2 separate regions of the Homo sapiens genome follow, and region 1 is linked to region 2. The links come from fine-mapping of genetic effects on gene expression. A gene starts in region 2. The other region holds a variant in brackets. All regions are shown on one strand. Distances are between the middles of the regions.

What was found. PIP is the estimated chance that this variant, and not a neighbour inherited with it, causes the effect.
Region 1: its variant is the best candidate, but not a certain one, in a credible set for the expression of SYNDIG1L in thyroid (GTEx, PIP 0.67).

Annotation. Positions count from the first base shown.
Region 1 is chr14:74,534,483-74,538,482 of GRCh38, forward strand. It overlaps LTBP2 (latent transforming growth factor beta binding protein 2), which reads right to left. Exons shown (of 36, transcript NM_000428.3): 9 at 1,444-1,518. Among named protein-coding and RNA genes, the nearest start is that of ISCA2, 43 kb to the left of the region's middle. The variant C/T (reference allele first, on the strand shown) is at 1,535.
Region 2 is chr14:74,423,592-74,428,108 of GRCh38, forward strand. It overlaps SYNDIG1L (synapse differentiation inducing 1 like), which reads right to left and starts at 2,619. Exons shown (of 4, transcript NM_001105579.2): 1 at 2,321-2,619.

The DNA of each region.
Region 1 (4,000 bases), 110 kb after region 2:
CTTGGCCTTAGGTATCACCTTTTCCAGGGAGCCTTCCCTGATCCTTCCAGTCTGGGAAGGCGCCCCCACCATGGGATCCTGTAGCACTCAGGGACTGCTGCTTTCTCTCAAGAATGCCCCGCTCATTAGACCTGATTGTTCAGGGGGTCTGTCTGCACTTGGGGCAGGACTGTCTTCTCCATCACTGTGTACTCCTAGCACAGTGTATGTAGCCCATAGTAACCTCCCCTCCAATACTCTGTGGAAGTAGGAGAGAAGGATGGAGAGAGAGGAGAGATGACGCATGCGGGTGCAGAGATGAGCAGGTCCCTTCGCAGACACAGAGACCACAGCCACATACATGGGAAGGGGAGGTTTCAGGGGCAGGGCCTCCTGAGGGAAGGTCCTTTGGTGTCCTGAATCTTGGGGCTCAGTAGAGGGAGGGCAGAGAGCCCATTTGAGATCCTGAGTATAACCTTAAAGCTCCAGATTGGGAAACATACCAGGAGGAAAAGCAACTGGTGACTGTTTAGACATGAACAGCCCCGATGTACCCTCCAAAGGCAAAAATACGTATTTCTCCCTACATCCACTGTCTGCTTGGCCCTCAAACCACTGGCTCCTGAGGGAGTCTGACTCTGGACTAGGCTGGGCCAGAGACCTGCCCTTTTGCTTGGCCCCAGCACCTTTGCTTATCCACGGGCTAGGAATCACTTCTGCAGCCTGGCACCCCCAAGGAAGACAGCCCAGCCATGCAGAGCTTCCCCAGACTCCTCTCTCTGAAGCAACCTCCAGGAGGAGGGCACCTTGGAGGCCATCTGGGTCAATCCCCTGTCTCTGACCCAGCTCCACCCAAAGCAAACCATACAGACAACTGTTTGTCCAGTTGTCAAAGCTCCCCACAGGGAAGCCACCTTGTTCCCCACTGGCCTCTGCCAGCCCCAGGAGCCTGTCCCAGGCAGGAAGCCCCCGTGCTCCCCGTCCCCTTTCCTGGCTATGGGTTGAAGCAAGCGGGAGGGAAGCCTGAGTAGCTAAAGGTTTTCAGTTGGGAAAAGCCCACAGAGGCCCCAACAACTCAGGCTGACTTGATTTCCCACCCTAGAGCTGAAATTCTTCCCACTCCAGGGAGACCAGCTCAGGAGAAAAGTGGAAGTGCACAGACTGGGGTGGCCCCTTCAGACACAGCCCCACATAGCCTAGAGCCCCTAGCCTGTGTTCCAGGTGGGTGTGGGTGGAGATGGGGACGAGGGGAGGTGTCGGCCCCCTTGGCTTCCTCTGTCACTCTCAAGCAAGTCCCTGGATTTCCTTAGTCCCCTGGAATCAGCAGCCCCCCACCACTCCCCAAAGCTGGGGCTTAGAGGGACTCAGTGGAGACCACTCGGCCAGTGACAGACACCCCTCCTGTCTGGTGCTGGGAGTGTGCCCCGGCATCCTTGAGCCCAGCCCTGGCCCTGGGGGTCCTACCTTGGCAGTGAGTGAGGTTCAGTCTCTTGTACCCCTGAGGACACTCCAGCTGGCCATTCTCAATCACCGGGGAGGCTGAAGAGTGGAGATA[C/T]GGACAGGTCTCACTGGACGGCCCCTGGGCTCCTCTGTCACCCATGCTGGGAAGCGGGTGCAGTCTGGATGTCCAGCCCACCCGGCAGCAGTGAGCCCCAGCCCCCGAAGCCATCGCCCTGGGCAGCTGTGCTTCCTGGTTCTCACCAGACTCCTCTCAGCCCACCTCGCTTTTATTAAAAGCAGTACTAAGTGAAATAAGACAGGCACAGAAAGACAAATATCACATGATCTCACTTACATATGGGACCTAAGAAAAGCAAACCCATAGAAGCAGAGTAGAATGGTAGTTACCAGGGCCTGGGGGAGAGGGGAGATATTGATCAAAGGGTACAACATTTCAGTTAGATACAGGAGGAATAAGTTCAAAGGATCTGTTGTACGACATAGTGACTATGGTTAATAACAGTGTCTTGTATTCTTGAAAATTGCTAAGAGAGTAGATTTTAAGTGTTCTCACCACAAAAAATAAATATATGAGGTAATACACATGGGTGCAATTTAGCCACTTTACAATGTATACTTATTTCAGAACAACAGTTGTGTACCAGCCAGGCGCAGTGGCTCATGCCTTAATCCCAGTGCTTTGGGAGGCCAAGGCAGGTGGATCACCTCAGGTCAGGAGTTCGAGACCAGTCTGGCTAACATGGTGAAACCCCATCTCTACTAAAAATATGAAAATTAGCTGGGCATGGCAGCACATGCCTGTAATCCCAGCTACTCAGGAGGCTGAGGCAGGAGACTCGCTTGAACCCAGGAGGGGGAGGTCGCAGTGAGCTGAGGTTGCGCCACTGCACTCCAGCCTGAGTGACAGAGCAAGACTCCATCTCAAAACAAACAAACAAATAGTTGTGCACCACAAATATATACAATTTTTATTTGTCAATTAAAATTTTGTTAATACTAAGAAAAATGTATTATATACTTCACATACATAGTTATTACATATAGTATCTACTACACTACATGCATGTTATATATATAACATGGATTTTATTGTTATTACTTTTTGCTTTTTATTTTGAAATACTAAAAATACACAGATGTCTGATTGCAGATTGACCAACAAGGAAATTATTCTCAGTATTTTTATGCTGATACACATCCTGCCTTGAAATCACAACATTCCCCCTTACTTTACAAAGAAAAAAAAAAAAACCAAAGAGTTGACATTAAATAAAAACAGGAAAAAAATCTCCATTACTTTGGAGGAACAGACTAGTGTGCCAACCCTCTTGAAAAGCTCTAGCAGGAGGCATACTTCTGATCGCCACCTGTCTTCACAGGAAAAGGCAGGGGAATACTATCTTTTGTGGAACAAAAAGAGAACTCAGCTATAAGTCTGACAATTCTTTTGCCTATAGATAGCCAGCAATTCTAAGCAGGCACGAGCAATTGCCACAGACCTTATTCCATACAAAGTTCCATAAATATACCATGATATTTCAAAGGTCTTGCTCTATAAAGGTAGCTGCATGATGGCTTCCTGTAGCAATTTGCCGTCTTCTAGCTTTGACTCCTTTGTGGCAATAGCTTGTCTCTGAATGCTGCACCCTCCATCTCTGTTACCTTATCCCAATTCCTTTTTCTCCCAGTCATAACATCAGTAGCTACACTTTCAGTGTTGTTTGCTAAAGCTTATTGTCATCCAGGAAGTCATTTACTGTTGAGAATATATGTCCACTGGTTCATCCTTTAGTGGTTTACAAAAAGAGAGTTCTTCATATTTTCTTCTTCTTCTTCTTCTTCTTTTTTTTGAGATGGAGTCTTGCTCTGTCGCACAGGCTGGAATGCAGTGGCGTGACCTCGGCTCACTGCAACCTCCACTTCCTGGGTTCAAGTAATTCTCCTGCCTCAGCCTCCCGAGTAGCTGGGATTACAGGCATGTGCCACCAGGGCTGGCTAACTTTTGTATCTTTAGTAGAGACAGGGTTTCACCATGTTGGCCAGGCTGGTTTTGAACTCCTGACCTCAGGTGATCCGCCTGCTTTGGCCTCCCAAAGTGCTGGAATTATAGGCATGAGCCACCGCACCCAGCCTTTCATATATTTTTATTGTTGAAATGAATTCTTGCAAATACCAAGAGGCATGTTAGAGATATTTATCCTTTATCCAATTGTACAGCAAAGTTTGAGTGTCTTGGTGGTTTAAAATGTTTTTCTAATCAAGATAGCTATTATTTCACCATTAGCTGCTCTCTCTGGGCACTTACACACTTAGCGCAAGGTTTGTTATTAGTAATGGCCTACATCAATCTGTATTTCATATAGTCTTCTCGATCATTTGGATCCTGGGGTACTTGGGGGTCACATCTGATAGGTCGTCACGATTTTTACTTTGTAATAAGGCTGAGTGACATGGTAAGACCCCCTGAGAAGGGTCGGCATTGCGTTTTTTAATGATTGCTTGTGATTATGGGACTAGTGTCATTTTGCATCCACAGTTTCTTTGCAGGAGCTTTTAAGAG
Region 2 (4,517 bases):
ACCGAAATGCCAATTAGCTAAGGTTTTTCTGAGCATCGGCTGGACCTGCCACAGTTGAGGGAAATTATTATCAGAGAAACTCATTTTGATTGATATATATATACACACACACACACACACACACGTAACACAAATATAAATTCTCTGTAGGGATGGATATTTCCTGCTTGTCCCCTCCTCTGGTCTTCCTAGGAGGGAGATCATAGCCAGGCAGGGTCCCTGGTAGGAGATGGCCAATGGTGGGGTCCCTGGCCCTTTGTTACTCACAAGAGATGGTGGTGGTGGTGGTGGTGGTGGTGGCAGGGATAATGGGGTGGTGGTTCCTGGCCTCTGGGCTTGGAGGCAGGAGCCCCTCTCAGTTCAGTCATTCTGAGTCACACTTATGGCTTTCCCAGAGAAATAAGAGAGGGGGTTCTTAAGAAAACATCAGAAATATAAATGGCTTTTTCTGGTTCCTATTGCTCACTTTCACTCCATTCATAAAATCCAGTTCATTACTAAAAGGTCATTAACTTTGTTGTCAAACCAGGTTGATAAAGCCGGCATCCTGTATTCAAGCAGAATTGAGGGGTTTATGGGTTTAGGACAGCCTCAGAAAGCCCTACAGAATATCAGGGCTTGAAATCTTAACTCATCTAGCCCAACTCTCTTCTTTTACAGATGAGAAAAATGAACCCCCAGAGGGGAATGGACCTGCCTGAGACAGCGGCGGATCTGTGACCAGAACACAGGGCTTCTGACTCCCAGTTAAATGCTTTTATTCTGATACACTTTAACATTTCATTCCCTCATTTTACACCCGATTACCGAGTCCTTACTATCTTCCAGGTGCTGTTGGGGAGGGGGTCATGAAGGGGGACAAAGAGATGAAAACAACACAATTCCTGCCTTCAGGGAGCTCTTTCCCTAGATCTGTGGTTCTTAGGGAGAAAAAATAAAAACCGGTGAGTCAGACTCTTACCTTATATTATCTCCTATAGGTGATGATGGAAGAGGAGAAGAAGGGAGGGCACACTTTTTTCTCCTTAAGGTTTATAAGTTTGGCTTCACTGATTCTGGGACCCCACGGTGGCCAAGGACAAAGGGAGACATGGCCATGCTGGGAGAAGAGGGGGTAGGGGTGACAATAATCAGGTCACTGACAGCAGGCCTGGCTAGGGGTTGGGAACAGTGACAGCAGCGCACACTGGTATGGAGATGTACAGGTGGCAAGCCTCCAATCAGGTGCATTGTTTTTCATTGGGCCCCAAGGCAGTTCCCTGAGGTGAGCAGAGCGGTGACCTTATCCCCACTCCAGGGGTGAGGAGGATGAGGTTGAAAGAGCTTAGGGAACTAGCTAAAGCCAGTAAATGCCAGCACCCAGCCAGGAACTCCTACTCTAGTGCTCTTTCTACCCCTGGGGGTAGGGAAGTTGTGTTGGGTTGGAGGGTGGGGATAAAGCAGTAGAAAGAAGTGGTCAGCCACAAGGGTAGGCCAATTCTTCCTCCACGCAGTTTTATTTTGATCGCTACATTCTGCCAGTCATAGAGAACTCTGCTCTGAAGAACTAGAAGCACTTTGCAGGCCTGAATGAGCTCATTCAGCGCACTCTTGCCAGAAAGAGAGAGAACTCCTAATGGAGGCTCTGTCTAGGGTCACCAGCACATAATAGAAAACAGGACCCAGGTTCCCTGACTCTTTGCCCTCATGCGCCAAGAGATGTGATGCAAATCCTGCCTGCTTCTGTGAGCGTCAAGAGTGTCATAGGAAAAAAAATTGAGGTATCTTCCAGGACCTCCTTCCTTCCCTGAAGAAATGGGTTAATCCATCCTAAGGGGCCTTGGCCCAAGAGCCAATCCCTTGGCCCAAGAGCCATTTCCAGGGCAGAGAAATCTCAGAGCAGGGGGTACCACAGCCACCTCAGTCACCTGGGTGAACAGGTTTGGGTGCGAGAAGAGGGGAGCTTAGTGAAGCCTGCTCAGATTTTGCTAGTGTCGCAAAACCTTGGTGGGGACTGGGGTACCAGGGAGTCTGAGGCTCTAATCAGTATTTCTTGCCGTCAGTAGGCAGGATGTCTAGGAGCTGCCTGAGGTCAGGGTCAAGGCCTGATGTTGTGAGGTTATGGTGTCTTGACCCCAGTTCATCAGCCCCCTCCCAGCACCCCCAGCCTGCAGGATGAGGGGTAGGGAGGGACGAAGTGCAAGCCTTGGCGGAGCGCAAGGTGCGGCCAAGCAGGGAGTCAGAGCCCCTAGCCCCGAGAGGGCTCCCGTGCCCTCCCCAGCTCACTCCCCGCTCCGTGCCTAGCTCTGCGCTCCCGCGGCGCCCCCAGACCGCCCCTTACCTGTCCCGCCGCGGACGGTCCCGCCTCCTCCGCGGGGCTCGGGGGCTCGGCATGGGCCGGTGAGCGACGGCGCCCCCGCCTCGCGGTCGCGGTGGAACTCCCAGGAGGGCTCCCCTGCTCTCGTCCCCGCGTCCCTGAGCAGCCGCCGCTTCAGCACCGCGGACAGCTCCCGCCCGCAGCCCGCCGCCGCCGCCCGCCCCGCCCCGCGCGGTCCCGGGAGCCCCGCATCCTGGCCGGGCCCCGCCGCCGCCGCCGCCGCGCAGCCCTCGGCCCGGCCCGAGGCGGCTCCGCGCCGACTTGGGAGAGCAGCGAGGAGGGTCCCCCTCCTTCCCGCCTCCCGCCGCCGCCGCCTCCCTCTCGCTTCCGTGCTCCGTGCTCCCTTCCACGCTCCGGAATCAGCCCACCAGGCACTCCGGACCCGGCTCCGGGGCGGGGCGGGGCGGGAAGTCGGGGGAGCCCGGAGGAGGCGGCGAAGCGAGGGGCGCGCAGCTGGAACCCGCGTACCCGCTTCCTGGAGCCGAGCCCTCTTTCCCAGCCCTTCTCTCCCCTCCTCCCGCGCACCCCAGAGCGATGGGAGGCCCTTGGGCTTCTTGAAGCATTTTGGAGCTCCTAGGCTCCAAAGCCAGCCCTGAGTTTTTAACATTGATCTGCCCTAAAAAGAAAAACAAACAGAAAGCATTTATTGAGCACCTACTATATACCAGATACCAAGCCCGATAATGTGTTTAATCAACATAAGCTCATTTAATTTTCTTAACAACTCTATTAGGCAATATAGTGCCCCTCTTCCCCTCTTCCCCTCCCCCTGCCCCCCTCCCCCTGTCCCCCTTCCCCCTCCAATTTTGCAGACCAGGACGCTGGGCTCACAAGGATGAAATCCTGTGATTTGGAGATTCAGTGCTGTGCTGGGAAGGGCACAGGTTTTAAAGCTCATGGACCTAAGTTTTGGTCCTAGGGTCCCACTTGCTGTATAACCTCGAGCAAGTTACCTAACCTCTTAAAGCCTCAGGTTCCTCATGGACAAAGTGAGGGGTCATATGAGGACAAAATGAGATGACATACGTGACACATTGGCACTCAATAGGCACTCAGTGAGTGAGCGTCCCCCTGAGTTTTCCCAGCAAGAGCCCTGAGATCCGAATGCAGGCCTTTTGGCTGCTTTGTCTCCACCCTGTGCTGCTCTTTATCCACCTCCACCTGCGTTTCCTTTTTTTTTTTTTTTTTTGCATGGGGATGCCCTATCTTGAGTGTTACCAGTGGATGAACCTATTCTTCGAGCGCCTTCACAAGGTCTTGAGTCTCACCAAAGTCCCAGGAGGTCAGGAGGAGAGAGTATTCTCATTTTCTGAAGGTAAGTGTGGGTTTGCAAAGTAAACCACAGAGCAGGCTGCAGCTGGGGCTGGAAGACACAAGGAACCAGGGTCTGGCAGTGGGATTCCACTAGCATCCACTAGTCTCCTAGCATCCAGCTGAGGATGCTATAGCACATAGCATGGTGGACTCCAGGACTCCTTCACTCCCACAGGATGTGGGCATCTGGCACAGTTCGGTGTAGCTCCTAGAGTGCACAGTAGGAGCCAGGAGCAAGTCCACATCATGGGGCTTGGGTCTCCTTCCCTTCAAGGCAGGACAGAGAACTCCCTTATCCTGGGGTCTGTCTCAGGGCTGGTATTGGTGTTTAACTTGTTGGGTGCTAAATATATTATTGCTCTTCCTGTCTCTGCCCCATTAGTGGATAATGCAGTGAGAAGCCCCCTGAGGCCAGCAAGGGTCTTGGACCACTCATCTCAGGCCCATACTTCATCTTCACAGACACCCTCCTCCTCAAAACACAGACATACAGACACACACACAACACAGACACACATAGACACACACAGACACACACACAAGACATTGTCTCTGATGTCAGGCCACCCTCCTGTACCTTTGCTTTCTCTGGCCTTCCTCTCACAGGGGCTCATGGCCACCTACTTGGCCTTGGCCTCCCTCTGCTGCTCCCCTCCCCACCCTGGCTGTGCTCCATGCCTGGGCTGCATACTGAAATACTAATTGAAAGGATAATAAAAAAGCCAGTGAAGCAAAAGCCGCATATAAATTCTAAATACTAATGTTGATAATTACATGCTGCTGCCTGGAGGGAAAACTCAAAGAGAGGCTGTTGGTGTTGTATCAAGGGCCCTGGCCTGGTGCCAGG